Regions from separate parts of the Homo sapiens genome. Here all the other regions are linked to region 3. Evidence: fine-mapped expression QTL. A gene starts in region 3. Each other region holds a variant in brackets. All regions are shown on one strand. Distances are from middle to middle. Region 1 overlaps FGFR1OP2 (FGFR1 oncogene partner 2). Region 2 overlaps TM7SF3 (transmembrane 7 superfamily member 3). Region 3 holds the start of TM7SF3 (transmembrane 7 superfamily member 3).

Region 1 (11,308 bases), 61 kb before region 3:
CATGTTTGGATTTAGTTCTGCCATCTTATCATTTGTTTTCTTTTTGTTCCTTTGATATTCCTTTGTTTTGCCTTTTCTCTGTCTTTTGGGTTATTGAACACTTTTTAATTCATTTCAATTAATCTATTGTAGTTTTGACTATTATCTCTGTGCAGTTATTTTAGGGATTTATTAGGAATTACAATATATGTAAATTTTTAAGTCTACTTAAAATTGATATTTTTACAACTTCAAGTGAAATGTAGAAATCTGATCAATGTATAGGCCTTTTTAGCCTCCTCCCTTTTTCTTGTAGTTATATATTTGCCTGCATAAATTAAAAATCTCATTAGATAAATGTTATAATTCTTGTTTTTAAACATTAGACATTTAAAAGAACTAAGAGGAAAATAATTACCCAGATATTTACAATTTCAGTTGGTCTTCCTTTGTTCCTGATGTTCTAAGTTTCCTTCTGATAACACTTTGCTTCTAACTGAAGAGTATTCTTTATAATAAGTCTACTGGAAATAAGTTCTTCTTTCTCTTCAGCTGAGAATGACTTTTATTTCACCTTCATATATGAAACATATTTTTGCTGGATATAGAATTTTGGGTTGATAGGTCTGTTCTTTCAGCATTTTGAAAGTGTTGTTCTACTTTTTACTGGCCTTCATTTCTGTTGGGAAGCCTACAGTCATTCAAATTGTTCTCTATGAGTAATATGTCATTTTTCTCTGGCTGCTTTCAAGATTTTCTCTTTGTCTTTAGTTTTTGGAAATGTGACTACAACGTGTCTGGAGTTAGATCTTGTTGGAAACTCCTGCCTGGGGTTTCCTGAGGACTGGGAATGATGAAGACAAGGTTTCTTAGAAGGAAGCAAAGTGTTACATCATCGAAATGTATAAGTTTCAACTATTGAAGTTAAATATGTTTTTATATTATTGGATGACAAGTTAGAATGCGCTTGGGAGAATACACAAAATACAGTATTTTAGTCATTGTGAATATTGTGTCTTTTCGGTAGGGGACTCTTCTAAGGTATTCATAACGTAAACATACTAGAATATTTAAGAATATTGCCTGGCATGGTGGCATGCACCTATATAGTCTCAGCTACTCAGGAGACTGAAGTGGAGGGTCTTTGGAGTCCAGGAGTTCCAGCCTGGGTGATGGCAAGACCTCGCCTCTAAAAATAACTAAACTTAAAAAAATAATAATAAATATTTCTAAACCATGGAGAGAGGCAACTCCATAAAATCTTCTTAGAGATGTTCAGAAAGTTGTTCAGGAATGGTTTTAGTCGTTGATTCACCATTACAGTTTTTCTTTTTCATTTTGAGATGGAGTTTCGCTTTTGTTGCCCAGGCTAGAGTGCAATGGCGCGATCTCAGCTCACTGCAACCTCCACCTCCCAGGTACAAGCGATTCTCCTGTCTTGGCCTCCCAAGTAGCTCAGATTACAGGCTTGCACCACCACGCCCTGCTAATTTTTTTGTATTTAGTAGAGATGGGGTTTCATCATGTTAGGCTGGTCGCGAACTCCTGACCTCAGGTGATCCACCCACCTCAGCCTCCCAAAGTGCTGGGATTACAGGTGTGCACCACCACACCTGGCCTACAGTTTTTCCAGATTAATTTATTTACAAATGAAGCATGAATTAACCAGTATCCTATGCTATCCAAGGTAAGTTTTCCCATTCGTGTTTAATATTGTGGCCATTTTTTTCTACTTAAATGAAATGTTTCATGGAGTAGTATCTGTTTGAGGTTTTTTTTGTTTGAGACAGAGTTTTGCTCTTGTTGCCCAGGCTGGAGTGCAATGATGCGATCTTGGCTCGCTGCAACCTCTGCCTCCCGGGTTCAAGCGATTCTCCTGTCTCAGCTTCCCGAGTAGCTGGGATTACAGGCGCATGCCACCACACCCAGCTAATTTTTGTATTTTTAGTAGAGATGAGGTTTCATCATTATTGGTCAGGCTGGTCTCGAACTCCTGACCTCAGGTGATCCACCTGCCTCAGCCTCCCAAAGTACTGGGATTACAGGAGTGAGCCACCGTGCCTGGCCCTGTTTGAGGTGTTATGTGGTACTATCAAGTAGCCATTCTGATTATGTCAGTTTTTATCTTCATGGATCTTACAACTTGATGGTCACAATGGTTCTTTTGAAATTTGACAGGCCAAATTTTGTGTATCTATCATGGAGTCTTTTAACTTCTTCATGGGTTTATTTTACAGTTTCATATGAGGCTTTTGCATAAGGACATTTAGTCAAAGCATCCCGCTTATAGTAACGAACTTTAAGGTATTTCTATGGTATCTACAATATTGTTTCTACCTTTATGATAGCAGTTATATTAGGCAGCTACCATCAAGCCATCAAGTAGTTAATGTATTCGTTGTTTTTTTTTTTTTTTTTTTTTTTTTTGAGACAGAGTCCCGTTCTGTCACCCAGGCTGGAGGTGCAGTGGCACAATCTCGGCTCACTGCAAGCTCCGCCTCCCGGGTTCACGCTATTCTCCTGCCTCAGCCTCCTGCGTAGCTGAGACTACAGGCGCATGCCACTACGCCCGGCTAATTTTTTTTTTGTATTTTTAGTAGAGACGGAGTTTCACTGTGTTAGCCAGGATGGTCTCGATCTCCTGACCTCGTGATCCACCCGCCTCGGCCTCCCAAAGTGCTGGGATTACAGGCGTGAGCCACCGCACCTGCCCTGTATTCATTGTTTTTAAAAGGATATCTGAGAAACCTCTTTTCTTTGCAGCATTTCAGAGAAGTGGATTATTCTAAAAGCATATCACCTATTCATGTATATATTTACTTTCAGTAAGTTGCTCCATCTTAGTGGAGCACAGTTAAGTCATTTGATCAGTCTGGCTTCTGGTAAGAAATTGAATTTTATCACAGTGACTGATGTACCTGTTGCATATCAAGCCTGATACTGCTGATTTTTGTTTTTAAGATAAAACCCATTAACAAACAGTAAAGTCAGGATTTGGTACTAGAAAATTCAAAAGTTTTGTTTTGGACTTGAATACTTCTTGAGTTATGGAATCACAATCATGAGATTTTCCTTGCAGTAGGTAAAGGTTGCTGGATTAATACTGTTACACAGTGAATGGTAATATGAAAAAGAGAGAGTAGCAATATTTCATGATTACTCAAATGATAGAAATTTTGGATGGTTTCCTTTAGCAATAGGGATTTACTATGCATGGTAACATGAGGTTTAAAGACCTAGAATAACCTCTGAAGATGCTTTGATTAATTCAGTTGAGGTTTATAATTGCTCGGAGGCAGGGAAGCTAAACCTTAGCTGCTGAATTAAGGTATACGATTTTTTTTTTTTCTTTTTTTGAGATGCAGCCTCACTCTGAGGCCCAGGCTGGAGTGCAGTGGTGCTATGGCTCACTGCAACCTCTGCCTACTGGGTTTAAGTGATTCTCCTGCCTCAGCCTCCCAAATAGCTGGGATTACAGGCACCCCCCGACCAGGCCCGGCTAATTTTTGTATTTATTTATTTAGTTAGTTATTGAGACAGCCTGTTGCCCAGGCTGTAGTGCAGTGGTGCAATTTTGGCTCACTACAACCTCTGCCTCCCAAGTTCAAGCAATTCTCTTGCCTCAGCTTCCTGAGTAGCTGGTATCACAGGTGTGTGCCACCACGCCCAGCTAATTTTTGTATTTTTAGTAGAGACGGTGTTTCACCATGTTGGGCAGGCTGGTCTTGAACTCCTGAATTCAAGTGATCTGCCCTCCTCGACCTCCCAAAGTGCTGGGATTACAGGTGTGAGCCACTGCGCCCAGCCCAAGGTATACAATATAATAGACAGTGGGGTTTTGATGTCGTGTTGTTAATACTCCCAGGACACAGGGTACTATTTTTGTACTCAAAAAGATTTATGATTATGTAGGAAGACTATCTAGACTGAGGGCTATTTAGCTATCTGATCATATATAGGACCTTATTGCGTTTTATTTGGAAACAGATCCTGTCTATTGCATTTGTAGATGTTATGTTTTAGTGTGTAAAGAAGGGTTCTTCTTATAGTAGTCCCAACAATATCATTTACAGATTAGGACTGTTAGAGAGTTCTATTACTTGAGTTCTATTAAACCAAGGTAAACTTTATTTTCTCTCAAATCTTTTACAATTTGTTGTAGAGTTTCAAATTTGTCTTTTATTACTTTCACCATCTGTTATAAACTATTATTTTTACTATAAAACCAATTTTTTTGGTTATTTCATTTTTCTTAGTACAAGTCAGTGCCCGTCCTTTTTTTTTTTTTTTTTTTTAATTTTGCTTTACAGACAGCTTTAAAAGTTTACTCAGAAGGATCCGATGTTCTATAGTAATGGGATTAATGGGAGTTATAGTGATGTCCATTTAACCTATTTATGTTAACTTTCTTAACAAATAAGAAAGTTGTCTGTCTACAGTTTTAGATAATTTCCTTTGGAAATTTAGAGGAAGTACAGGGTATTGTTGGGCACTAATGCCTCTCTCAGAACGGCATCTTCGGATAGATTTTGGGTAGTTGTCCTTTTGGGTATTAGCCAGTATCAGACAATATTGGTTCCTTTAATGGCCCTTTTACTCCTCATATTTTCAAGCATCCTTATCTAAACCTCCTGAATCTTACAAGACAAATCTTGTGGTGGTTT[T/C]CTCTAGAGAGCCAGAAGTTATATTAATTTCCAGCTTGTTTACTTCTTAAGGCTCTCTGGAAATGTCTGATCATATATTGGACATTTTCTAAATTGGCGATTTAAATAACAGGAGAAAGTCTTCTGAAATTGCCTGATGTGTTTTATGAAATATTTTATACTGTTGAGTTATTTAAATTTTCTCTTTGCTACTTGTTGCTTTTTTTTTTTTTTTGTATTGGAGGGGATAATCATTAATTGGACTAGTTGGTACAGATCTGTAGTCCAGGGCAGTGGTATATAACAAAGTCCTGAATTCTGTGGCAAATTGCTGTTTTAATAAAGTTGATGAAAGTCTTTGTTTATAACCCTTCACTTGGATCTACACCAAATTTTAATTTAACTTCTGTAGACGTGGCTTCTGGCCTGGTAATTTAGTGTGATTTTATTTTTTGAGGAAACCCTGAAGAAAGGATGACTTATATTGAACGTTAGGTAAAACTTAGTAGAAAGATAAAAGATTTCAGCTGGGCACGGTGGCTCACACGTGTAATCCCAGCGCTTTGGGAGGCCAAGGCGGGCGGATCATGAGGTCAGGAGATCGAGACCATCCTGGCTAACACAGTGAAACCCCCGACTCTACTAAAAATACAAAAAAATGAGCCAGGCGTGGTGGCAGGTGCCTGTAGTCCCAGCTACTCGGGAGGCTGAGGCAGGAAAATGGCGTGAACCTGGGAGGTGGAGCTTGCAGTGAGCCGAGATCACGCCGCTGCACTCCAGCCAGCCTGGGCGACAGAGCGAGACTGTGTCTCCAAAAAAAAAAAAAAAAAAAAAGGAAGATAAAAGATTTCAAGGAGGGTAAGTGTAAGTTTCAGGAGAAACTTAAAGTTTTGGAAAGAGACTTTAAAATTATTAAAATTTTGTTTGAGGTTTCTACATACCAGTTGAAGAAGCTGACAATTGACTGTTTCATGTTTTGTCTCATATTTCTTTCAGCTACTCTTAAACATATTGCTTACTGATTTTAGCATATCAGAAGTTTCCTGTAATTACCAGTTTTGTCCTAAGTCAAAACTTTTTTTTGCACTTTAAGGAAGATGCAAGAGTTAGAATTATAATGCAACTTTATGTAAGAAGCAGAAGTTCTTCCAAGAAGAGGTTGAGACTTTAATGTAGCATGACACATTGAGGCCACTTCGGCTGGTCAGCAGTGTTTGTGAACAGTGTGTCAAGTCACCTGACCAAGCAGAGGTTAGGAAGCATTCTTACAGTCAAAGTTTTCAGACAGTCATTGACCCCAGAATACTGACCAGTAAACCAAATGATCTTCCTCAAAAGTGACAAGATAGGGAATGCCCTCATAAAGGGCAAATTTCTATATAACATTATATTCCTTGGACATGTACTTTTTTCCCCACTGTAAATTTAGAGTGTTTTAAATGCGTTCTAGTTCTGTCTGCAAATCTTTTAACTGTGTTCTAATTTTTTTGTAATAGTATAAATTTACTTTCAAGTTTGTAGTATCCTAACAGAAGCAAAACCACAGTGTTCTTAGGTGTTTTTTCCTCCCTGGACAGTGAACAATACTGTAACAAATGTGGCTTAAGAAGCATATCTGTGTTGACATGAAGCTAAAATAAAGAGATATGTTGACTTTATTTTGAGTCTTGATTTTAATTTTAATTATAGATATATCTTTAGAAATGAGTTGCACAATTGAGAAGGCACTTGCCGACGCTAAAGCTCTTGTTGAAAGATTAAGAGATCATGACGATGCAGCAGAATCTCTGATTGAGCAAACCACAGCTCTCAACAAGCGAGTAGAAGCCATGAAACAGGTTTGATTTTTCTTTCTTGTTCATTCCATTTATCAAAAGCAGTCATTGACATTTATGTATTGCTGGCTAATTAGTATCTAATTTTTTTCAACATTCTCTAAAATTTTAAAGTAGCTTGACTTGTGTGTTTCAGGTTTACTTTAATTTTGTCGTGTTCAGGTGATATACCTAGACATATATTTCTAAACCCTAGATTTGATCACTTATTTTGCTGACAGAGTTGCACATTTGAGTTTAGAAAATAAATGAATTTGTTAGGTCTAGAAACATTTGACAAAGACCAGATAATACCTTTTACTAATGTTGGTACACATTTTGTTCTGTCTTGTATAATGTAGAAATGTTCATATTTTTCTTTATAAAAGTACTTAGGTGATGCTGTTTAACAACAAAATAGCTTTTGAAAATGATGCAAGGTAATATGTGATTTATACTCTGTGCAGTTATTGTACCCATACTTGCTACCTTATTTTTCATTCAGTGCTACCAATTAAAGAATACATAAGGGCTTTCTTCTTGCTATTTTTACTATTGTATAACAGAATATTCCCATGGGCCACGGAGTTTAGACACTATTTTAACCTTCTTCTGATAAAAATTTTCAAGTCATTTAAGAAAATTATAAAATCTCTGACATTATGATGGAAATCAGAGGGGGAAAATGTATATTCACAGCCAAATCTCCTCATCTATTTTGTAAAAGGAAGCAATTCTGGGATAGTATTTTTAACAAAGCTACTGGAAATAGTGGAGCAAGTTTAGTTATTTGGTTTTACAACTGTGTTGCCCTAAACAGATTTACCTGCATCCCTAACCAACTGTCCAGCTAGACTCAGGCACTTCAGTGAACATATATCTGGTATTGAGTTGTTAAAAAAGGAGTTTGACATCTGAAGTTAAGAACCAGGAGTGTTATAATGAATATGTTACTAAGTGTCTCATGAGAATGCCTTGAAAATAAATAAGTGCAATTTTAAAATAAGATTCTCATTTTCTTAATGGAAAATCTTTTTGCATTTCTTTTGTACATGTTCTATTAAGATATTCACATACCATAAAATTTACTTTTTTGAAGGGTACAGTTCATTGGATTTTAGTACACATTTGCAGGTTATGCAGTATAACCACTACCTGATTCCAGAACATTTTCATCACCACAAAACCTTACATCCATCAGTGGTCTCTCTCTAGTTTCCCCTTTCCTCAGTCTCTGGCAACCACTAATATTTCTATCTCTTTGAATTTGCCTATTCTGGACATTTCATATAAATGGAATGATAAAATATGCGGCTTTTTGTGATTGGCTTCTTAACATAATGTTTTTAAGGTTCATCTATGTTATAGCATGTATCAGTACTTCATTCCTGTTTATTGCCAAATAATATTGCATTGTAAGGATACAGCACATTGTGCTTATCCATTCATCAGCTGATAGGCATTTGGATTATTTTACTTTTTTGGCTGGTAAGAATATGCTGCTATGAATATTTGTGTACAAGTTTCTGTGTGGACATATGTTTTCAGTTTTCTTGGGTATATATGTAGAAGTAGAATGGATGGGTCATATAATAACTCTGTTAAAATTTTTTGAGGATCTGCCACATTGTTTCCCAAAGCAGCTATGCCAAGCTTGTCCGACCTGTGACTTGCTGGCTGCATATGGCCCAGGATGGCTTTGATTGCGGCCCAGCACAAATTCACAAACTTTCTTAAAACATTATGAGATTTTTTTTTTTTAAAAAAAAGCTCATCAGCTATCGTTAGCATTAGTGTATTTTATGTGCAGCGTGATAATTCTTCTTCCGATGTGCCCAGGGAAGCCAAAAGATTGGACACCCCTGAACTACATCATTTTACATTCCATCAACAATGTATGGAAGGTTGCAGTTTCTTCACATCCTCTCCAACAATTGTTATTGTCTTTTTCATTACAGTCATCCTCGTGGGATATATTGAATTGCATTCTCCTAATGACTAGTTAGGTTAATTAAGTATCTTTTCATGTGCTTATTGGCCATTTGTATATCTTCTTTAGATAAATGTTTATTCAAATCCTTTGCCACTTTTAAAAATGGGGTTATTTTCATTTTATTGTTGAGTTGTAAGTGTTCTTTATATATTCTGGATACTAAGCTCTTATCAGATTTTTTATATGTATATTTCAGATATATTTATATTTATATATCATATATATATATATATATATATTTGCAGGTATTTTCATCCCACATGTTTTTCTCCCCCATTAGTATCAGGAAGAAATTCAAGAACTTAATGAAGTCGCGAGACATCGGCCACGGTCCACGTTAGTTATGGGAATCCAGCAAGAAAACAGACAAATCAGAGAGTTGCAACAAGAAAACAAAGGTAAGATACGTTACTTTTTGACATTAATCCCATTTCTAGTCTATATTCCTAAATCGTATTTATTGCTCTTTATCCTGTCCCACATATGAACATCTGCCTGGTTGACATCCTCTTAGATTCTCACCCTTAATATCCAGTTAGCACTGCTGTTGTTAGCTATGAAATAACCCAGCTTCATTCTCTGCAGTCCCACTGCATTGGCCCCCAGATTAGATGCTCAGTCTCTTGCCTGAAATGTCCAAACTGATCTCCCTGATTCCAGTCTCTCTTCCCCCTTCCAATCTGTCTTCAACATAACCATCAGATTGATATTTCAAAAATCAGTCTGATCATGTAATTCTTTTGCCTAAGAACTTTCATTATATACTTATTACCTTTTACAGGGTCCCTAAAAATCATTTCCCAGCCTTTTTTTTAAATCTTCTTCCCACAGCTTTCTTCACTGTGAACTCTTTGCTCTTGCCAACACCAATCACTTCCTAAACACGTCATCTGTTTTCATGCCTACCTGCTTAGAAGGTCCATTCCTTCACTTTTCAACTGAGGGAACTCACACTGTACTTCTACAAAGCTTCCACCAGTTTCTTCCCATAGACATCTCTTAAATCTATTTGACTTAACACTCCACTCTGCCACCTACCACATGCTTGTTTTCTCTACTAGACTCTTGAGGTCTGTGGCCCTTAATATAGAGGGAGCCTTGGCCGATATTAATTGCTGTTTAGTACATCTTTGTTGAAATGATTCTCAAGAAACAAGCTTAAAATATTCAAAAAACTAATACGGGACTTCATTTGGTGTCTCTTATTGTTATATGGCTAGATTTTTGTGCATTGTGTTTTCTTTTTAAAATGTCCCGTTCATAAGTTGCTTAGTGGAAGAGAATATTTTGTGTACTTTTAACTCAAGTTGGAATAAAATACAATATTATTCTTGATAGAATTACGTACATCTCTGGAAGAACATCAGTCGGCCTTGGAACTTATAATGAGCAAGTACCGAGAACAAATGTTTAGATTGCTAATGGCTAGCAAAAAAGATGATCCGGGTATAATAATGAAGTTAAAAGAGCAGCACTCCAAGGTAATCCATTCTATAAATGTGACCTGAAATGGAAAAGAGAGACGATTGATTATTCTGTGTTCAGATTTTTTTTGAAAAAAATCACAGGTATCTAGTAATGGCATTTTAACATGATGTTGAATGTTTCATCTTTTTAATTGACATTTTCTCCTTTTTCTTATTTTTCCATTTCTTGTTATATATCATTTTCTGTTTGATTTATAAACTCTCACTGTTTCTTAGAAACTTTAATTTGTACGTTGAAAAATAAATTTTATTTTGGATATAAAGGTAAGTCTGGTCTCTTCAACATTATTTTTGTAGGGCTATATACTTTTAAGAAATATTTCTTAAAGGGCTGGGCATGGTGGCTTACGCCTATAATCCCAGCACTTTGGGAGGCCAAGGCAGGAGGATCACTTGAGGCCAGAAGTTCAAGACCAGCCTGGGCAACATAGCATGACTCCATCTCTTCAAAAAGTAAAAAAATTAGCCGGGTGTGGTAGCACATGCCTGCAGTCCTAGCTTCTCAGGAGGCTGAGGTGGATAGACCACTTCAGCTCAGGAGTTTGAGGTTACATTGAGCTACGATCATGCCATTGCACTCCCATCTAGACAACCGAGTGAGACCCTGTCTCTTAAAAAACAGAAATTTTTTTAAGAAACATTTTTTCTAATAAATTTGTGTATTGACTTCTCTTGCAAAAACAAAAAATAATGGAAACCTTTTTTAAAATCTGAAAGCAGTTTAATGTAGATTTTTCTTAAGACTGTTTTCTGAATAAGGCTAATTCATCCAGACTATAAATGATCTTGTTTATTATAATGGAAAAAACATGGGGTTCAGGAGAAGAACCAACATAGTAAAATTTTGCTCCCTTGCCCCAGTATTGTATACCAGTTGACATCATTTTTTAGAAACAAAGCTGAAGTAGTTAGAAATTAGTGTTTTACCTGCTGTTCATCCCTTTGTCATCCCTGTGTCTATTCCCTTTGGTATGTCCCCATATTTTATGGCATATTTTATGGCAACTGCTATGAAGACAAGTAGAATAATCCTTTCTCACATATTTATTTTAAACTGAGTTTTAGTTGCTGATATGAAATAAAAATAATAAACTAGATTGTGGAAACTAGACTGTTACCTGTATTAGATAATGGTGAGCTGACTATTATTATTACCAATATTATTTAAGAAACAGTGATTATGAGCCTTCTTTTCCCCATTTGTTACAACAGAAATAGGAAAGGACATATTTTCATATTTATCTATTATTGAAACACATTTTAGATTCTTTAAAATACTTCTTCCATTTTGGTGCTTGTACGTGTTTTTAACTTATTAGTAATTAATTCTATTAGAATTAAATACCTATCAAATAGCTCTTTATATGCCTTTATTATATTAGAAAACCTAAT
Region 2 (9,691 bases), 38 kb before region 3:
AGCCCCTGAGTAGTAAGTATGCAACCCAGGGTGTCGGGTGCTTTCTTGTGGTGAAACAAGGGTGTCAAAACTGAGGGGACTCTCCAAGGTCCTAATGAAAAGCAGCTCCTCTAAACACCTGAATCCTTTTTGACTCCATTCTCATCACTTTAAGGATGAAGCCTTTCTGTACAAAGGCTTTGTACAGAAATTATTAAAAACTATATTTTACACTAATGCTAACAGCTAATTGAGCAGAAAGAACTATGAAGTACAAATTTTTCTAAGGTTTTCTTATTAATGGCAATACAGACTTTTTTTTTTTTTGAGACGGAGTCTCGCTCTGTTGCCCAGGGTGGAGTGCAGTGGCGTGATCTTGGCTCACTGCAACCTCTGCCTCCTGGGTTCAAGCGATTCTCCTGCCTCAGCCTCCCGAGTAGCTGGGATTACAGGCACCTGCCACAATACCCAGCTAATTTTTGTATTTTTAGTAGAGACAGGGTGTAGTAGTATATATTCTACTATACTATAGTAGAGACCACTATGTTGGCCAGGCTGGTCTCGAACTCCTGACCCCAGGTGATCCACCCGCCTCGACCTCCCAAAATGCTGGGATTACAGGTTTGAGCCACCGCACCTGGTCGGCAATATAGATTAAGGTGGGGGTTATTTCCTAAAAACAAAAGTAATCCATATGTCATCTAATGCAGTTAAATTAAAGATCACCTGTTGACACTATTTGAAAAGGCCTTGAAAAAAAAAAGGGGGCCATTATTTGGAATATAAATCACCCTTATAAAATTCTATTATCTATATAAATTGGCCTATTTTCAAATAATAATTTAGCTATTTCAATTACCATTTTAAGCAATAAAAGGCAAAAACAAAGGGAACCTACTGAATTGTACACTTAAACATGAATAAGAAGGTAAATTTCATGTGTATTTTATCACAACTTAAAAATTTTAAAAAATACTGAAAAAAAAACAAAGGGTAACTTTTGGATAATGTATGATACTAAGAAGGGCATGCAACTAAGTAATCAGACTGCTTTTAGTAAGAAAATAAGTTTTTTTTTTTTTTAATTTCTCGAGACAGGGTCTCTGTCACCCAAGCTGGAGTGCAGTGACACAATCAAGGCTCACTGTAGCCTCAATCTTCAGGGCTCCAGGGATCCTCCCATCTCAGTCTCCTTGGGAGCTGGGAGTAGGCATGTGCCACCATGCCTGGCTAATTTTTTAATTTTTTTGTAGAGATGGGGTCTTGTCATGTTGCCCATGTCGGTCTCAAACTCCTGGGCTCAAGCGATACTCCCACCTTGGCTTCCCAGTATTGGGATTACAGGTGTGAGCCACCATGTCTGGCTTGCTTCTCTTTTTGTATTCTAAAATTCAAAGGCCTAAGTATCAAATCCCTAAATCTCCAAATACTGTCACAGATAAAGACTCAATAATAAACTCCCTCCGAAAGTTTAGACAGGCTCAGGTGAGAGACTTGTTTCAAGGGGTTATAAAAAGAAACACCAGTGCTCTGCAGAAGAATCAGTTTTTAATTTTTTTAATGTATCTATTTAATGGAATAAGTTGATCATAGATTTGTAAACCAAAAGGTAATTTCTCAAGTATTTGGAAATAAGAAAAAGCCTCCCTACCACCAACCTTTTGGTCATCTTTCTCATTCTCTTACAATCATCCTAATCCCCTAGTACACCCTTACCATATATCAATAAGGGCACCATAATATTATGCAAAGAACAGATATATATGCCTGATCTCTTATTAGACTTGCACCAGAGACTGTTGAACCACTCCAGGCATGAACTCCAAAGCTGAGGCACACTGACCAAGCCCCTGGGCATCTACAGAAGCAAAGGCGTTCTCTCTCCAGCTGGCTGCTCCTTCTGGAAGAGCCCTTTAATCTGGGTTAATCGGCCATAGAGCCTCTCTCTCAATGGAGGAATGTGGTAGCTAGGGTCCAGAATGTTTGTCACTCGGCGCTCTCTCTCTTGCTTCCATAACTTGTATGGGTGGGGAGGGAAGAACGGTCGTCCTCTCTCTCTTCGAATCTGTAACGTAATTCCACTTACAGCCAGCATGCCCCATACTGCCAGGATAATGAAGTCTAAAAAACAGTAGAAAAAGTACAGTTTGAACTCTAGTATTTTAAAATCTAACATAATAATACAACCCTTCATGGACTAAATCTGTATATTCCTTTCTAATAGACTTTCTGGTGAGTTAGTCCAAACACATATGTAGTTCCTCAGTTACAAACCAAGGAATCAGTAGGGAAGCCACAGTCTTATTTTTGAAACTAGGAATTTTCTATTACAGGCATTTGAAAGTCCAGACAGGTTGTAAAAAAATCAGTTGTTTGGATCCTTGGCCTTCCAACATTATGTAACAAGTACCCACAGTTGTTTGTGTGTTTTTTCAGAGGGGGTTCGGGGAGGAAGGCAGTGATCTAGTTACACTTCACATATGTACATCATGGAACATCAGATTCCACCACGCTCATTTCTTTCCCATTCCACTCTACATGGGGCCCTACTGCACTCACAGTGTAGGTATAGGAATGCATGAAAAGATTCAACCAATCGTACTCAGCTTCTAGTAAAGCTTCTAGCTTGGCAAAACACTGTCTGGTACTTAAAACTTGCAAGAGTTTTAAGGTTTTCAAGGATTTCAAGGTCTCTACCATCAACCTCTTATCCAAAGGGAAAGCTCTGGATAGTAAAGGGAAAGATTTGCCCTAAAATAAAATCACAACAATCACAATTGTGCTTATGCAATATATCTTCAATTCTAGGACATGCTTTTTCACTCTCCACATGTCAACATTTCTGAAGTCAACATATCTTACAATCTGAACAATTCATGTGGTAGTCATTTTTTTCTTCAAAAAATTTATAGAAAATCTGTAATGGATAGAATCTTACAAGTGAGGGAAACTATATGCTTACTAATTAAAAACTCTTTCAACTAGCAAACTGCATGCTTCATTAAAGGAGGGAAACAAGGGAATAACTTAACATTAAATCAGGTTGTCATTCTCATCCCTTATTCCATCCCCACCCATAAGTCTCAAACATCTTTACTGTCAGTATTTTTCTCCCCTCTGAGAATGACCAGGTAAACCTAAATAATCTTGGAAATTTCTTAATGAAATTCATTTAGTAGATTTTTATCTTCATCTTAAAATTTTAAATGCTTTACTCCCATGATCCTGAGTTATCATAACAGAGGGTTCTCACAGCATTGTATGCTGTGTTCCCTCCTTTTGTCCCAGTTGACTTTCTTTAAATTTAGTTTCCAAGTGCTCTGGTTAGCATAGGTGGGTCAAGACTCCTACTGTGCTGTCACACTGGTTTTTGGATTTAAGAGTCTTACCATTAGTTTGAAAAGGCACATTTGTGAAAGCTCTGTGGAAATCCTTGTTGAGCGCTCTCTTGAGTACGTTCAAAGTGATGTAGGAAAGGCTTGTGGACCAGTAACTGTCAATGGCTAAAACCACCGAATAGGAGCCAATGACTCCACAAGTCAGTATGTTCAGCTGTGGAAGAGTGGAAGAGTTTAGGCATCATCCATGTTAGAACAAAAATAGTTTATAACTCTCCACTGGCTTCAATCACAGGCAATCACATCTGCTCCCTCAGGCATGAAAAAGGACCAGACCCACTCAGAGCTGAACAGAAGTTCCCTGGAAAGATAAACTGAAAACAACCTTCAACATCCATATGAGTTCTTAAAACACAGTTCAGCTTATCCAAATACTATGGAAAATATCTTCCATATGAAGGAACTTCAACAATAAAATCTAATTAGAGGAAGAATCACTCTTCTGAAGCCAGTTGAAACTAATGACCCATCAGGTTGGTGTACTAGAGTAAGCACTACCTTCTCTGCTCCCACTGTTAAAAGCATATTGACTGTGATGCTCCATTTGGTGGAAAAAAAAGAAAAAAACAAACACCATGTGGTAATCATAAATAGAACTTCGTTTTCACAGTAACAAGGCTATTTAGAATCAGTCATCTGATACAGGTAACACAGCCCTCCCCAGTGAATAAAACATGCAAAATGATGAAATAAGTGATCAGCTGAACACACAGGATAACATAATCAATAAATCTAACTTTTGATGAAACACTTACTATTCTTAGGCAGCCCATGAAAACTACTGGAATGAGGATAGCTATGCAAGAGAAAGTGACCCAGAATACACCATCATCATGAAAAATCTTTAGGTTTCCTGAAAAAGCAAAAAGAAACTAAGAGTAAACAACAGCTTTACCAAGTTAGAGTTGGTTTCTTGGAACATCTGAACACAGATATACATCAAAGCCTTAAAGTAACAACCAGGGAATATGTTGGCAACTAGAAATGAATTCTAATTTTCTTCATTTAACTGTCAATACAATCTTCTTTGAAGGATGTGTTCTAGAAGGTGGGTGGGAGGAACCAAGCAGGTCAACGCTCTGCACTTATTAACAAAATCATTTAGAAGACACTGGAATAGTCCAAGCTCTTCCATTCACTAGCTCTGTGAACTTGAGCCTCAGTTTCCTAACCCTCAAAATGACATTGAATTATATCTCCAAGCTCTAAATCACCTGTTAGCTCTACATTGCTGACTTCATGATTTCATACTGCAAAATAAAAAATACAAGTAAAAGGCATTCAAAGTTAAGCCATGAACCCAATGTAAACAGTGAGTCCACTTAACAGATTTTTACCGTCAAAGCATGTCCTGTCATGCCACTGCACACTGTGACATGTGATTTCCTCATGTATCAGGAAAGAGGAACCAACCAACTATCTGCTCTTCCCAAACCCTTCTCCTGCTGCTGGACTCTAAAATGCTGCACAACTTAGGCCGACCCAGAACAAATATATGAGAACTCCTCTTT[A/G]TAAATTAAGTTTAAAAAGCAAGAATAGGCTGACTGCTGTTTAATACTGACACTGGCACCACCATTCAGTCCATCTGTAAATGGCCCCATACCTCAAGACCTACATATCCAGGTCAGAGTGGAAGACTGGGAGTCCCTAGGCTACAGGACTGGACCTTGAGACTCCATATTCTCTGAAGCCAACAGCAATATGCCATTGAGGTGAACTTATAGATTCTATTCTCTAGTTTAACTATATTAACCTTCACAAAATACATATGTGGCTTTCTTGTAAAAGGCTTTCAAGAAATCTAAGTATTGAAAATAGTTACGATGCATGCATGTGAAGAACGGACCCTTTCAGAGAATAAGCTCATTGCTTCCCACATAAGGTGAAAACTAGCAATCTAATCAGATTGTAGTGGTCAGCCAAATATTTTTTAAATGCTAATGCTTAAAAATATGGGTAGGCCTCTTGGCCGGGCATGGTGGCTCACGCCTGTAATCCCAACACTTTGGGAGGCCGAGGTGAACAGATCACTTGAGGTCAGGAGTTTGAGACCAGCCTGGCCAATATGGAGAAACCCCATCTCTACTAAAAATATAAAAATGAGCTGAGCATGGTAGTGTGTGCCTATAATCCCAGCTACTCAGGAGGCTGAGGCAGGAAAATCACTTGAACTCGGGAGGTGGAGGTTGCAGTGAACTGAGACTGCGCGACTGCACTCTAGCCTGGGAGACAGAGTGAGACTCCGTCTCAGGAAAAAAATAATGTGTGTGTGTGTGTGTGTGTGTGTATGTGTGTGTGTGTATACATATATAGGTAGGCCAGGTGCAGTGGCTCAAGCCTGTAATCCCAACACTTTGGGAGGCCGAGGTGGGAGGACTGCCTGAGCCCAGTTTAAGACCACCCTAGGCAACAGTGAGACTCTGTCTCTACTAAAAATAAAAGCTTACCAGGCATGGCAGCACACACCTGTAGTCCCAGCTACTTGGGAGGCTGATGTAAGAGGATGGCTTGAGCCTTAGAGTTTGAGGTTGCAGTGAGCTATGATAGTGTCACTGCAGTCCAGCATGGGTGACAGAAAGAGATCCTGTCTCTAAAAAATAAAAATATGGGTTTGCACCCACTAGCATTGAGGAGATGATCACTCTAACGGTCCTTGAGCTATGAGATAGTTCATAAACAAACATATATAAAGGGTATATGCTAAAATTATTTTTACCAATAGGAATAGTTATGTCAAAAAGTTTAGAGACAACTGCTCTAGACTACTTTATAAAGTTGAAAATTAAGAGACCTCTTTATTTCTGTTTTCTCATTCCTCACATCTATCCTATGAGATAGTTTCACAGATGATGGAACAAAGTTTCAATACATCGTCCAAGGTTATAAGCTAGAAAGGGAACTAGTGACAGAGCCAGAATGCATATAGAAGGTTTTTTCCTGACTTTATAATTTATGCTCATTCTCCTCATGAAAAGTACATTAAATTACTAGAAATTATAACCTATCATCCCTCCATCCTCTAAGCATTAACAAAAGAGGGGAAGCCCATTAAGTAGTAGTTGGTTTTTGTGGTCTTTTTGTTTTGTTTTTGAGACAGGGTCTTGTTCAGTCGCCCAGGCTGGAGTGCAATGGCACCATCATAGCTCACTGCAGCCTCAACCTCCCGGGTTCAAGCAATCCTCTAGCCTCAGCCTCCCAGAGTAGCTGAGACCACAGGTGTGCACTACAACACCTGGCTAATTTTTTTTTTTTTTTTTTCAGTAGAGATGGGGAATCACTATGTTGCCCAGGCTGGTCTCAAACTTGAGCTCAAGCAATCCTCCCACTTGGTCTCCCAAAGTGCTGGGATTATAGGCATGAGCCACCATGCTCAGCCATTAGGAAGTATTTTATTTAGCACATGTAGGGTAGAGCCTTGAATCTGTATTTCAAAAACATCCCCATGTGAATCTGTCATTTCGCCAAGCCTACACAACACTGCTTTTCATCAGACTATCCAGTAGTCTTAGAAAAAAAAAGTCTTCAGAGAGACAAGGGACACATGACTTGTACTCTATTATATCCTGCATTCTCTATAGAGTTGACAGCCTCATGAAATGGCTATTTTTATGTCTAACAGTCCCATCAACTTTATTCTAGTATTTTAAGAACATTGTCACAGAAAGGAAACAACCAAATAGAATACTTTTGAGTACAGATGCTGTTTTTGTTTGTTTTTGACAATAATCAGGAAATGTAAGTTATTAAACAATGGCAAAGAAAGTTAACTTATAAGTTAACCAGATTTTAAAAACTGATAGCAATTGAATTACTTTTTAAAAACACCAAAAAAACCCCAGAACCAGCCCTGTGCTACTGCCCCAGGGTGATTAAGTACCTGAGGGACACCTGGGGTTTGGCAGCGGATGGGAGTGGAGGTTGAGGGTACAACAGAAGACCAGAAACAAAGTACCAGGTTCCCCGACTCAGCTGCCATCAGAGCCTTTACCTCCTTATTTCCTTTACCTCCATTATTTCTAATAAACACATACCACTTATCACAACAAATAGATACAAAGCTACCTCTAAAGACATTCTATATTTCATCTACTGTGCCTTTGAGGAAGGAGGGACTTTTACTAGTCCTGGTGCTGTCTGAAAGTGTCACACCATCAATGCAGATTTCCAGAACTCCACAGGAGAAGCACTGACATGCAACACCACTCCAGGATGCAAATCCAATTAGGCAGTATTCAAACAGTCACTCGAACACACAAAACATCTGTTACATATCGCCTACCCAGTGGAGTAAAGAAAGTCACTGACGAGATGAGGAACCCCAGCACTAGTCCAACACAGAGCATGCAGATCGAGAGGATTCCAAATCGCCACCACACAGCTACCAAGAACATTCCACCGACGCTTCCAGTGACAGCTGTCAGAATCAGATTCACTGTACAAAGAGAGAGGATGAACTGCTGGATAACCGGCAGTACTTCCAACCGCGTGCCTTAGACATACAATACCGTTACCAGTGCCAGCTTCAGCTTTCTGTAGGTCAGGCACTGAGGGCTCTTCAGTGGTGCCATGAAGCCAGCATAGAGCAACCCTCTCTAGGGAGGGGTCTGGGCTGAGACAAGGAAATTAGCTAGGGAGCTAAACCTCACAGGGCCAGTGACAGGCTTGGCTTGTCAATAAATTGGGATTGAGAAGGAAAAGTTGACAAGCATTCTGTTAAACATAATGGGGTAGGGAGGTATCTGTTTTCAGGTAAAGAAAACCTCAACATTTTGCTTGTTGTACATCTCATATCTTCAACATATCACATAGCCAGAACACAGGTCTATAATCAATATGGCCCCTCCTTTCCCTAAGTACCAAGGAATTCACCATACAGATTAAAAACCCAGAAGGTCTGAATGAGTAGTTCAGAAAAGGTGTTCAGAGACTAGATGGACCATTATTTTACATAAGTAATAGGCTGTCACACACAATATAGGCCAAACTGTAGAAGGAAAGGTGAAGTAAAACACAGCACCTGCCTTCTTGAATACCCAGTTAAACTATATAATTTTCACTTACCATCATACTTGATAGGTGTCAGTCTTGTAATCAGTATATAAAAGAAGAATCCCATGATGATAAAGCCTATGAAGAATAATTCTAAGTGGCAAACCACCAGGAAAGGAAAAAAGCAAAACAACAAAAGCTATGGTTAAGCACCCTTTTTACAGTGCAATTTAAATATTTAATCTACAAATACATGCTTAAGCTCCTGGAATTTACATGTTACAGCATTCAGAAGAAAAAAAAAATCTAAAAGGCAGAAGAAATTCAGCAGCCATGGGAGTAATTATTATTAAACAGATACAATATTAAAGTACCAACTACAGGATACACTTTCTTGTATATAGGTCAGTTTCCATTGTTAAATTGTTATTTGTTCATTTCATAGCTCATTTTAATATATTTATGTTTTCTGCTTAAAATAAGAATAGCACTTTGTCACGTGTATGTGATACGAAATTACACATTAAATTTTAATAGTTTTGTAAGCAGAAATAAAATGTAAAAGGTAAAAGAAACCCAAACTGTCCCAAAGCAAAATATAACTTTTATATCTTCTTTTAATTCATCCTATCCTGTTTAGAATGATCAATCATTACCTTCATCCATTAAAACACCTGGTAATGCAAGTATACAGATAACTTTGTTCCCACAAATAAGCCTAATCCTGATCATGGAGGCCATAGCTCTACCTATTTTCTTAAATTCTTCACAGCTGTTCTTGGTAATACTTGTACTGTATCTCAATTTCAATAAATATAAAATGATACATATCAACACACCAAAAAAACCCAGAGTGAGGCATGGTGGCTTGTGCCTGTAGTCTCAGCTACTTGGGAGGCTGAGGTGGGAGGATCACTTGAGGCTAGGAATGTGAGGCTGTAGTGCACTATAATTGTACCTGTGAACAGCCACTACACTGCACTCCAGCCTAGGAGACACAGTGAGACTCCATCTCTTTAAAAAGAAAAAAAAAAAGCTAGTGATAACTTTGAGACCACAGCTTAGCAACTAAGTTCTTTGTTACAGAATCATTCTACATGTTGAGATATTATATATTCTTTACAATACTCTCTTCCCAATTAATAAAAAAAGTGTCATAATAGCAGGAAAGGAGTTGCTATTTCAAACAATTTAACATAAGTTTAAAGAGCTTTATTAGATCAGGATTACATTTGAGCTACCTTGATGCTCAGTTATACAACTTGTTGATTAAATAAGGATTTTTTAATAATCGAAAACATCACTTATATAAAAAGCAGCCCAAA
Region 3 (11,308 bases):
GGGAGGGGGCCTGAAGATGAGAAATTACTTAATGAGTACAATGTACATAATTCCAGTGATGGATACACTAAAAGCCCTGACTTCACTGCACAATATATCCTGTACCTACACTTGTGCTCCATAAGTTTATACAAATAAAATAATTTAAAAATACCACCATCTCCCCACCCTACTGCTTTGCAGTTCCACCTTTCACATAAGTCAAGTGAACATATGTGTTTGCTTCTAGAGTCTCAATTGCATTCTACTGGCTTATTTGTCTAGCTATAGACACCAATCCTAACACAAATATTACAACTCTCTTAACTCCTGCTCCAAATTTGTTCTTCCTCCTCAAATTTATCTTGACTATTTCTGATCCTTTACATTTCCATATAAGTTTTAGAAATCAGCCTGTCAATATCCACACACACACAAAAAAACCTGCTGGGATTTTGATTGGGATGGCCCTGAATATATACATTAATTTAGGAAGAAATGATACCTTTAAAATATCTTTATCTTTAGAATTTTGTAATCTATGAATTTCCGATATTCCTCTATTTCTTTAGTTTCTCAATTTATCTAAAGAATGTTGAGATGTATTATGTTATTTTCTCTGTAGAGGTCTTTACATATCCCATGATTATCATCCCAGAATACGTAATGTTTCTTGAGGCTATTTTAAATGTACTTTTTCTTTTCTTTAATTTTATTTCTTAACGTTTTGTAGAGATGAGGTCTTGCTATATTGATCAGACTGGTCTTGAACTCTTGGCCCCAAGAGATCCTCCCCCACTCAGTCTTCCAAAGTGCTGGGATTACAGACGGAACCACAGCACCCGACCCTGCTTTTTCTTTTAAATGTCTATTTCTAGCTGTCTCTTCACCAATATATCTTTTATAAAAAGTTCTCCATGTAATTCTAATGTTTAGCTGGGTTTGAGAACTCCTAACATAGTGTTTGATAAACAAGCAAAGGATAAATATGTATTTTTTTCCCAGTCTTAGTTATCTCTAACCTAACATCTGTGTGAAAATACTTTGGCAGTGTAACCCTGGCAATCTAACATCCATTGTACAATTTTTTTCAGAAGATTGCTTTAACCAAACCAGTTGTGGTTTGATTCCTGGCTGTGCAGGATTTTGTCATTTTTGATGTTCCAACGTCTAACACAGTATAGTCACCTAACTGGCATACAGTAAATGTTTGTTAAATGATGCCTGAACTATGTGACCTCAGGCAAGTAATGTACTTCCTCTGGGCTTCAGTTCCCTCAAAGTAAAATTGAGGTAACTGTGCTGCCATCAGTTGGCTGCTGAAAGTATCAAACAAATGGGAAACAACTTTTAAACTGCCCAAGGCTACACAATAAAGCATCATTTATTAATTTCCATTAGCTTTCCTGTGCTTCACACATTCATCTCCTTATTGAAAGAAAAGAAAGAAAGAAAGACAATCAGGCACTCAGAGCAGCCCTACGAAAAAATTAGTGGGAAGAAAGGAACTAACATGTACAGGGCATTCACAGAAATTCCAGGCACATCATAAGCATTACGTTGAGAAAGAGACTTCCGAAGAGTGACAACAAAAGATACTGAAAGTCAAGACAACTTAAACAGCTCAGTCTGGTAGAAACTCATTTAATTTCTGCTCATAAAAACAGATTTAGCAAAAGAAGACACATACTCAAAAAATATCCTGAAGAAGCTAACAGGAATTTAACTTCACCTCTAAGGCATATGGAAAAGGATTTATTAGAAGCATTTTATGAGGCATAATTATATCTTATGACTTGCAGAGTAGGAGGAAAAAAGACAGCACATCAAAAGATATTACAAAGCAAATGGCTAACATCAAGTTGGGGCACTTACATTAGCTTTCCTCTAAAAAGAAATGGCTTTTTTTGCCATCTGACCTATAGTAGGGACTTGAAACAATTTTTCACACCCATCTTCCATTCTTACCCAGAATCACTTTTTCTTTCCAATAATTCCACTTTAAAAAGAGCTGCCCAATCCTAATACTTTCCTTTTTCTTTCCGAATCAGATCCTAATCTGGCAACCATAAAAATTTCCAACTCTTCCTTTTTACTATTTTACTAAAATTTACTTCTACTGTTTGTGTTTCAACACAACAACCAAATTCTAAGAGAAATCCATCATAGCCTAGTCTTCATAATTCTCTTCACATTAAAAACAAAAATGGTTCAGCTACTTGAGTTGGTCAGCAGTCAACCGCCCCTCCCAATTTCTCATTGTTATCTTCTTACAAATGTTCAATAGCCCTAAAGGTTGAAAGGGAACACAAAAATGAACATATTAGCTTCACACACTTTTTAGAGAAAGACAGCACTTGCAACTAACCATGAACAGCCTGCTACCTTGGTAAAGCATCATCAATAGCAAGAAGACTGAAAGGCCCAAATGATGCTGTGCTCAAGTCCAATTACTATGAAATTCCACGGGAGTTACTGGATATGAATCTAAACAAATGAAAGATGTTAAAGGCAGCAGTGAACTGGGACTCCAAGAGAAGGGAAAACTGCTTAAAAGTATGATCCATCTCATGTGCCTACTGGTCACAGAAAGCACCCTCCTCAGACATTCTAGGAACTCCATCTGCCACGTTCCAAGATTTATTTAGCATTCAGGCCACTACAGAAGTCATGCAAGTTAGCTCATCCTGCCAAAGATGGGTAAATCCTCCTAAATTACAGCAGATGCTCAATTTCTTCAGTTTGTATGGTTATCAGAATTATCATCATCAAACATCAATCCAGCCATTTTCTAGGAGGATTATGCAAGTCCTGAACTATGTCCTTCTACCTTTCTATACTGATTTTTAGCTGATAGATGTGGAGAATATCAGCTTTTATTATCACTCAGCAGTTAAGTCCCCACATTGTCCCTCTTCTGCACAGAATGACAATACCAATGCAAGGCAAAAAGAATAACATTGAGGAATATCAGTGCTATAATCATAGCAAAGAGGCAAAAAGCAGTGTCTGAAAAAAATTAATTTCTCAATTTATTCATATTTTTTAACTTTTGTATAAAAATTTCTAGGTATTAAATACTAACACCAAGTAGAAAGAAAAAGTTCTGGACGCCTGCTCTCCTGACTCAGGGGCTGGCCTCGATCAACTAAAAACTCTAATATCTCAAATTCTTCACCTGTTAAAATAGAGATAGCATCTCTTCTACCTCCATCATAAGGCTATTTTGAAGAATGAGGATTCACAGAAGGATTAAGTACAAAGCACCATGCCATGTAAGATATTCTTATTGGAAGACAGCTTTACGGAAGTGGAAGGACTATGAAATTTGCAGGGAGACTCACCTGGGTTCAAGTCCTATCTGTAACCCTAGCAGCTGTTCATTTGTTCCTCTGACAAGGGAGGAAGATCATTACATTGTAGGGTGGTGGGGATTAAATAACACTGCACGTGGAAAGCACCTGGCACACACTATACAGAGTGAATGTTAGTGCCCTATTATAAGCAAGGTTTTTCTGCAAAAAAAAAAGTTGCCCTTTTCAGCTTTGGCCTCAGTCCTATATACAAAGATCCTAGAATTCAGTTTGCACAAGGGCTTTTCAAAGATAAGTGCATAGCAACACAATCACATTATTCAGAAAATATTATGTTTCAGAACTGCAACTAGTCTATTAACCTCAAAACAAAACAGAATGTGCTTAGTTTCATGGAAAAGCACATGATGATCTGCCTGGCACAACTAGTGCCTTTTACATTTTATATTAACAAACCATGAGCTGTTGCCCAAACCCATTCACCAAGCACAAGACTTACAATCTAACATCCCATTCTGAGTTCTCACTGAGATGAACAAGAATTACCTGAAATCGGCCGGGCGCGGTGGCTCATGCCTGTAATCCCAGCACTCTGGGAGGCCAAGGCGGGCAGATCACGAGGTCAGGAGTTCGAGACCAGCCTGAACAACATGGTGAAACCCCGCCTGTACTAAAAATACAAAAACTAGCTGGGTGTGGTGGCGGGCGCCTGTAATCCCAGCTACTCTGGAGGCTGAGGCAGGAGAATTGCTTGAACCCGGGTGTCGGAGGTTGCAGTCAGCCAAGATCATGCCACTGCACTCCAGCCTAGGCGACAGAGCGAGACTCCGTCAAAAAAAAAAAAAAAAAAAGTCACCTGAAATCATCAAAAATGGTGTACTCATAGGGAGCCAAGCCCGGGCATGTTGCTTCTTGGCTCCCACAGGTGAATTTGAAGTGGCAATAGAACTTCGTTGATTCTTGTTTTTCTCATTTTAGTTTTACTCTCTATTAAATTGTTATTTTTTACAGTTCATTTATGGATGACAAGTTATTTCCTGTTGGTAGCTGCAATGATTGGGAATTTTGTGATCTCTGTAAACGAATTAATATCTCATAGAGATCTATTTCCTGTTGGATATGAGACAACAGAGAACACAGTTTTTGTCCATTTGTCTTTTTTAAGGTCAAATCGATTAGAAATTTCTTGCCCTCAAGTAAGGAGAACAACTCTGATACCTGGACTGGCAAGCTTTTGTGTTTCTGTGTTTATTTTTCATTTGTGGCTGAACTTGTAGAATTGAGGGTATACACATTCTATCTGTATGTCTATGTATCTGTAATTCAGAAAGTCCTTTATTTCTCATTGTGAGTATGGAATGTTTTCCTGTCTCCAGATGGTATTAATAAATTAGATGGTAAAGGCTCTTTAAAAATAAAGCCTCATTATGGGTTCATTTTCCCTCTCAAACTCTGTAGAACATAACCAGTTTGAAAAGCCTCTAGATTTGGGGGTGTAAAAATTCCATGCAGCTTGAGAGCCATCAGTCATTAAGCCGCTAGTTCCACCCCAAGTCTTGCTGTCCAGAAGCTCAGACAGTCCACTGGGCAGCAAAGAGGCGCTTTAGTAAGTTGAATTAAAGCCACAAACATGGCTGCTCCCTAAGGGAGATAATACTGTGTTAAAAAAAGAGAATTATTTATCTCTTCCCATTTCCTCCGCTAAATGAGGAGGTTAATAGTAAGACCTCCTTAGCCATGAGTGTTTCCGCTGCAGGAAACACCATTCGTGCCGGTTCTGGACTCACCACCCAGCGTGTACCAACGCCCCCAGCACCATCTCCCTGCTAGGCTGACAGACCCCTGGCGGATTTTGACCTCGCAAGAAATGCAAAAGCAACTTTGGGTTGCAGAAGCCAGGCGCCCCGACCTTACCCTCGCTGGAATTCCCGAAGACCTCGGCTGCACCAGCCACCCGGTGTTCGGATGCCAGCACCGCTACGACCAGCAGCTGCAGGAACCCCATTGCTGCCTGGGCCGGGCTGGGCCCACGCCAGGGCTGGGGAGAGGTGCGGGCGTGCGCGCCGGGGCCCCGCAGCCTCGCCCACGCTATCCCGGGGCGCCCGCATCGGGCGCCATCGCCCGCCAGGTGCAGACGCTTCGCACCTGCCAGCTCCGCAGCCGCCGGCGCGCGCCCCGCCGAACTCCTAGCCCCAGCGAGAGGTTTCCTCTTCCGGCACCTGACCCCCAACGCGCGTTCCCGCGCCTCCTCCCGGGCTCTCGCTGCGTCACAGCGGCGGGTCTCTGGGCGCGGGCGGCGCTGGGGCGTTTCCAGGCAGCGCGCGCCTCCTGCCGGCGCGCGGGGAACGCGCAGCCTGCGGTGCTCCCGGGAGCCCCCAGGAAGTCCTGGCTTGAGGCCCGGTCTTGCCCCACTTTTATCTCACCAAGTAGGCAAACCCACTGTGAAAGTACAAAATAACTTTCTGTTGCGGACTAACGTCGCCAGGCTCCTGTTTCCGTGTTTAACGGCCCTTTACAACAGCAAAAAAGAGGAATCAGTTGCTAAAAACACAATTGAAGGTTATTTCCCCCGGTAGCAATTGTCTTCGCTGCTGAGGCTTATGTTAGCATAAAAATGCCAGGAGAATGCTGTTTGTGTAGTGGTTACCGCACTAGTCATAAGCACTACATTTAAAAGTAGTTTCGTTTTCTCTAAGCGAAATATCCTCGAAGACACGGCCTTGGTCTGAACTTCGTCTCAAGTCTCATACCTGAGTGCTGTTTGAGGGACAGTAGTCCATGTGACAGATGGCTCATCGATGATGTGGAATTAGACGCATAGACTTAACGTTATTTGGGGAGGATTGTCTTGCTTTCCTTCCCTGGTTTTAATTTTTTTCACTTATATATTTTGATGAGCAACTTATAGCTTGGAAATTACATGTTCAGTTAGTCCACTACTAAGCTAACAATATATAGCTGTGACCATAATGTGAAGAAGTGTTAAAGACAAAATTATTCAATGATACTTGTTAAAGCACCGAACGAAGACTATTGAGGACTGTCTCAATTGGCATAGGGACCACTGCAACTGGGTCTTGCAGTGGGGAAGAGGGACTGGGCTCAACTCCGAATACAGCGTGGGCAAGAGGGAATTTATAGCCAACCAGCAGTATGGAGTTCAGTGGATGGAAAATTACTAAGAGGAAGCATCAGAGGTAAGGGGCATTTGGTGAAACTGACCTAACAGGACTTCTGAAGACATAACATCACCTGGGGGATGGTGCAGGGTGAGAAAACTGATTAGATATGGAGGAAAGGGGGTTCTTTGCTAAAACTGGATTTTTACAAAGAAGTGCACAGATGGACCTAGCAGAAGATTCAGAAGCCGTACTAGAGTTTGGCCAAGCAAATAATCTTTGTCATAGGCACAATTCTTTCTCTGCTTTCCCACTGCCTGGTCCAAATTTTCACACCTTTGGTAGCACTATCTATTTCTGTAGTGCTTATTCACTCTCCCACATGCCCCTATTCCTATAACCCTCAGTAGATGAAATCCAAGGAAGATGAAAGGGACAATTATGATAAGGGTAGCATCTGAATCAGTGGATGGATTATTCAATAAATTGTGTTCTTAACTGATTAGCTGCACTATGGGCAGAGAGAAGCAGAACTCTATCTCACACTAATTGTGAAAACAAAATCCCAAAGTAATAAAACCATAAAAGAGCTAGCAGAAGAGGGCGCTCTTTTTTTTTTTTAATAAATTGATCTCAAAATGGGAGGAGCTTTCTAAGAAGCAAAACAGCAAAGGAAACAACCATAAAGGAAAAGATTGGTAGACTTGGCTACGTAAATGCTTTTTACATAAATATTTAAATTTTATTAAAGTAAACACACAAACAATATGAAAAGGCAAGTTGACCAAAAAAAAAAAATTAGCAAAGGACATGAATGGGGAATTTCACCCCAAAAAAGAAATACAAATTACCAGTAAATACATGAAAAAAGTTCAATCTCACTAGTAAACAAATAAAAAAATCAAATTAACAAACTAAGATGTAAACATTTTAAAAGTATAAAACATCCAGTGTGGATAAAAGAGCTAAGAAGGAGGCATTCTTAGGTAGGGATACTGGGAATATACACTTTAATAAAGTAATCGGCATCAAAAATGTTTAAAAATCTTATTTTTGTAGATTTGGTATAATCCACTTTTAGATTTAAGTACATAATTAAATACACATATAAAAATTAGTATAAGCTGGGGGAAGTGGTATGCGCCTGTAGTCCCAGATACTCAGGGGGCTGAGGCAGGAGGATTACTTGAGCCCAGGAGTTCAAGAGGGCAGTGCTGTATGATTGCACCTGTGAATAGCCACTGCCCTCCAGCCTGGGCAACATAGTGAGACCCCATCTCTTAAAAAAAAATAGTGTACAGAACTATTCATAGAGTATTATTTAGAGTAGCAGAAACATCTAAAACAACCTAAATGCCCAACAATTAGGAGTTAAATAACCTATGATAGAGCTTTATAAGAGGATCCTGTGCAGCCCTTCATTTATATTCTGATTGAAGTCTTTATGAAAAGGCAAGTTATGATGCAATAAGTATATATAGTACGTGGCTTTTTTTTTTTTTTAACATACATCTTTTATTGACTCAGAGGAATGGATACTTTTGTTGTTTGTTTGTTTTTTTAAATGGAGTCTTGTTCTGTCCCCCAGGCTAGAGTGCAGTGGTGCAATCTTGGCTCACTGCAACCTCTGCCTCCCGGGTTCAAGCAATTCTCCTGCCTCCGCCTCCCAAGTAGCTGGGATTACAGGCACACACCACCATGCCCGGCTAATTTTTGTATTTTTTTTTAGTAGAGATGGGGTTTCACCACGTTGGCCAGGCTGGTTTGGAAATCCTGACCTTGTGATCTGCCCACCTCGGCCTCCTGAAGTGCTGGGATTACAGGCGTGAGCCACCACACCCGGCCTGTAATTTTTTTTTAAGAGACAAGATCTCACTATGTTACCCAGGCTGGCCTTAAACTCCCAGATGTAAGAATTAAAGAAGAAAGAAACAGGAAAGGTGGCTTAGAAGTCAAGGACAAGTTTATTTTAGAGAAAACAAACCTGAAAGGGGCTTCTGGCCAGTTAGGTTAGAGGCACACTCTCTTACGGACTAATAAGAGTTTTTAAGGATTTAGGGTGGGAGAGTTTATCAGAGGCTTGGACTGCTTCTGTGTCTGTTGTGCTTATCTGGGAGGGAGAGTTGTGTGTCTGTTCCCATACATCTTTTTGCAGCTGCAGGCATACCCCCGAGTCTGCTTTTAGCTTCCCTATCTTAGTGCACCTGAAGGGAAAGGAATGTACTTACTAAGGCCCACTGTTTTACTGGGGCCCATTGTATGAGGGTGAAGTTTGGCAGTTACCCAAGAGAATTTCCCCCCACCTCCCTTTGTGCCTGAGCTGTCTTATCTGTGTTTTACTGTCTGCTCTTTCTGGCTGCTTATAGTTAGAAGAGAAGTGATTTCCTTGAAATGCATGAGGCTAGAAAGGGAGCTGGAACTTAAAGTGGCGGTGTTTGTCCGAGATGACGGTGCTCCTGGTCTGTCACCAGACTCAAGCAATCCTGCCACCTCAGCCTCCAGACTAACTGGGACTACTACAGGCTCACACCACTGTGCCTGCCTTGTTTTCTTTGTAGTATGCATTCCTGGTTATGTACATAGAAAAAAAGGTTGAAAAATATATGCCAAAATGTTTAAAATAGTTATCTTTAGGTGGTTAAATTAAGAATGATTTCCTTTGCACATTTCTGTGTAAAAGTTCTACATTGAAGTGTATCATTTTTAAATAAGAAATTATGATTTTGTAAAAGATACATATAATTTTAAAGGTTTTCTTATAAAAGCATTCAAGATATAAGTCCACCTTCCTGAGTATGACACATAAATGCTTTTTGTGATGCAACTCCTGCTCACCTCCCTAGGTTCTTGCTGCAACTAAAATCAGACCTCTACATGCTGGCCACATTGAATTAATTTCAATTTCCTGAACTGAGCCTATTCTCTCTCCTCCATACCTTTGCATCGCAGTTCCCCAGGCCTGCAGTTGCCTGTGCATGCATGACAGTTGATGACAAATGTGTCAGCAATCAGAACAGGGCCTCATTACCTTGGCTTCTAAGTACAGTATTGTGACAGCTTGGGAGGATGATTGGCTGGGGTTCCATGCTCATGTCAGAGTTCCATTGGAGAGCTGAGAAGCAAACAAGCTTAGCAGCTTTGCAGATTAGTTCATTTTTCCTATGTATTGAAAGGAAATGCAGAAACTGAAAGATTCCCAAATCCAAGATATGCATCATTAGAGGCTTAAAGTCTGTTTAGGCCAGGCGCAGTGGCTCATACCTGTAATCCCAGTACTTTAGCAGACCAAGGCAGGAGGATCTCTGGAGACCAGGAGTTCAAGATCAGCCCAGGCAACATAGTGAGATCCCCATTCTTACACACACACATACACACACACACACACACAACCAGAAAAAAAAATTAGCTGGGCATGGTGGGGCACATCTGTAGTCCTAGATACACAGGTGGCTGAGGCTGGAGAATTGTTCGAGCCTAGGAGTTTGAGTTTGCAGCGAGCCATGATTATGCCACTGTACTCCAGCCTGGGTGACAGAGCAAGACCCTGTATCTAATAAAACAAAAGTCTGTTAAAATTTAGAAGAGGAAGGAAGGGCAGGAGGGAGAGAAGGAGGAAGGGAAAAAACTTACCCTAGCTTTTTAAATAAAACCTAAAATACCTTAAATGGAGCTGGGAGTGGGGATCCAGGGAAAAGGCAGGATTGAACCTCTGTGAAATTTGCCCATTCATTCTTTCCCACTCTAATCTCACCTTCATCCTGTATTTTTTAATTCTTATGCTCTTTTGTGGGTAGTAATTTACATTCTTTGTTCATTAAGTTAAATTCAGTAAATGCTTGTTTAGTAGCTATTATATGGAAATTATTATGCTAGGAAACTCATTCATTTGGTTGATAAATATGTGCCAGGCTAAAAGTTAGGTGCTAGGTACTGGAAATATGGAAACAGAATATGTTTTCTGCCTGCAAGTAGCCCATGGACTGGTGGGTGAATTAGCGTGATGTACAAATAATTACAGCACAGTATGCTAAGTGCAATAACAGAAGTGTAAGGAACAATTGTGTTAAAGATTGGGAGCATTTAACTTTCAGAATTCAGGAAAGGCTTTTATAAAGAGATGTTTAAAATAAGATTTTGTTCACTAGTATAGTGGCAAGTAAAAAAAATAATAATAGGCCGGGCACAGTGGCTGACGCCTGTAATTCTAGCACTTTGGGAGGCCAAGGCGGGTGGATCACCTGAGGTCAGGAGTTCAAGACCAGCCTGGCCAACATAGCAAAACCCCGTCTCTACACAAATACAAAAAACTTACCCAGGTGTGGTGGCGGGCACCTGTAATCCCAGCTACTCTGGAGGCTGAGGTAGGAGAATCACTAGAACCCTGGGGGCAGAGGTTGCAGTGAGCTGAGATCGTGCCACTGCATTCCAGCCTGGGTAACAGAGTGAGATTCTGTCTCAAATAAATAAATAAATAATAAAATAAGGTTTGAGTACTGTGTGGACAATCACCAAGGGAGCAAAGTGGAGATGTGGATGGAAGTGTAGGCATTTCATACAAGGAAGAAATAATTATAGGTGTTTTTATATGGTGTGCATTTTTGTAAAACAGCAGAACATGTTTAGGGAATTTCAAAGAGTGTGGTATAGAAAAATGCTTATTTATAGTTATTCATCCCGGCACTAAGAACAGTTTAGATATTTAATAAATTGCAACTGTGAGTATTAAAGTTATTTAAAAATTGCTAAAGGTGTTTTTCTTAAAAAATAGTTGCTACAGTCATAAAAACCAAAGCATTTACAAGATTGACTGAGTGGCTCACTGCTGAAGCTGTAAAGGGTATGCGAGGGTTCACTATACTGTCTACTTTTCTATATCTTTGAAACTTTTAATAATAT

What was found. PIP is the estimated chance that this variant, and not a neighbour inherited with it, causes the effect.
Region 1: its variant is the best candidate, but not a certain one, in a credible set for the expression of TM7SF3 in whole blood (INTERVAL, PIP 0.89).
Region 2: its variant is the best candidate, but not a certain one, in a credible set for the expression of TM7SF3 in T cells (TOPMed, PIP 0.53).

The regions. Positions count from the first base shown.
Region 1 is chr12:26,947,834-26,959,141 of GRCh38, forward strand. FGFR1OP2 (FGFR1 oncogene partner 2) reads left to right here. Exons shown (of 7, transcript NM_015633.3): 2 at 6,312-6,460; 3 at 8,710-8,827; 4 at 9,768-9,910. The coding sequence starts at 6,326. Among named protein-coding and RNA genes, the nearest start is that of FGFR1OP2, 15 kb to the left of the region's middle. The variant T/C (reference allele first, on the strand shown) is at 4,644.
Region 2 is chr12:26,972,128-26,981,818 of GRCh38, forward strand. It overlaps TM7SF3 (transmembrane 7 superfamily member 3), which reads right to left. Exons shown (of 12, transcript NM_016551.3): 8 at 8,439-8,519; 9 at 7,657-7,809; 10 at 4,133-4,230; 11 at 3,369-3,531; 12 at 1-2,100. The coding sequence ends at 1,838. Among named protein-coding and RNA genes, the nearest start is that of TM7SF3, 37 kb to the right of the region's middle. The variant A/G (reference allele first, on the strand shown) is at 4,889.
Region 3 is chr12:27,008,871-27,020,178 of GRCh38, forward strand. It overlaps TM7SF3 (transmembrane 7 superfamily member 3), which reads right to left and starts at 5,514. Exons shown (of 12, transcript NM_016551.3): 1 at 5,208-5,514. The coding sequence starts at 5,298. RefSeq lists a silencer at 5,207-5,706.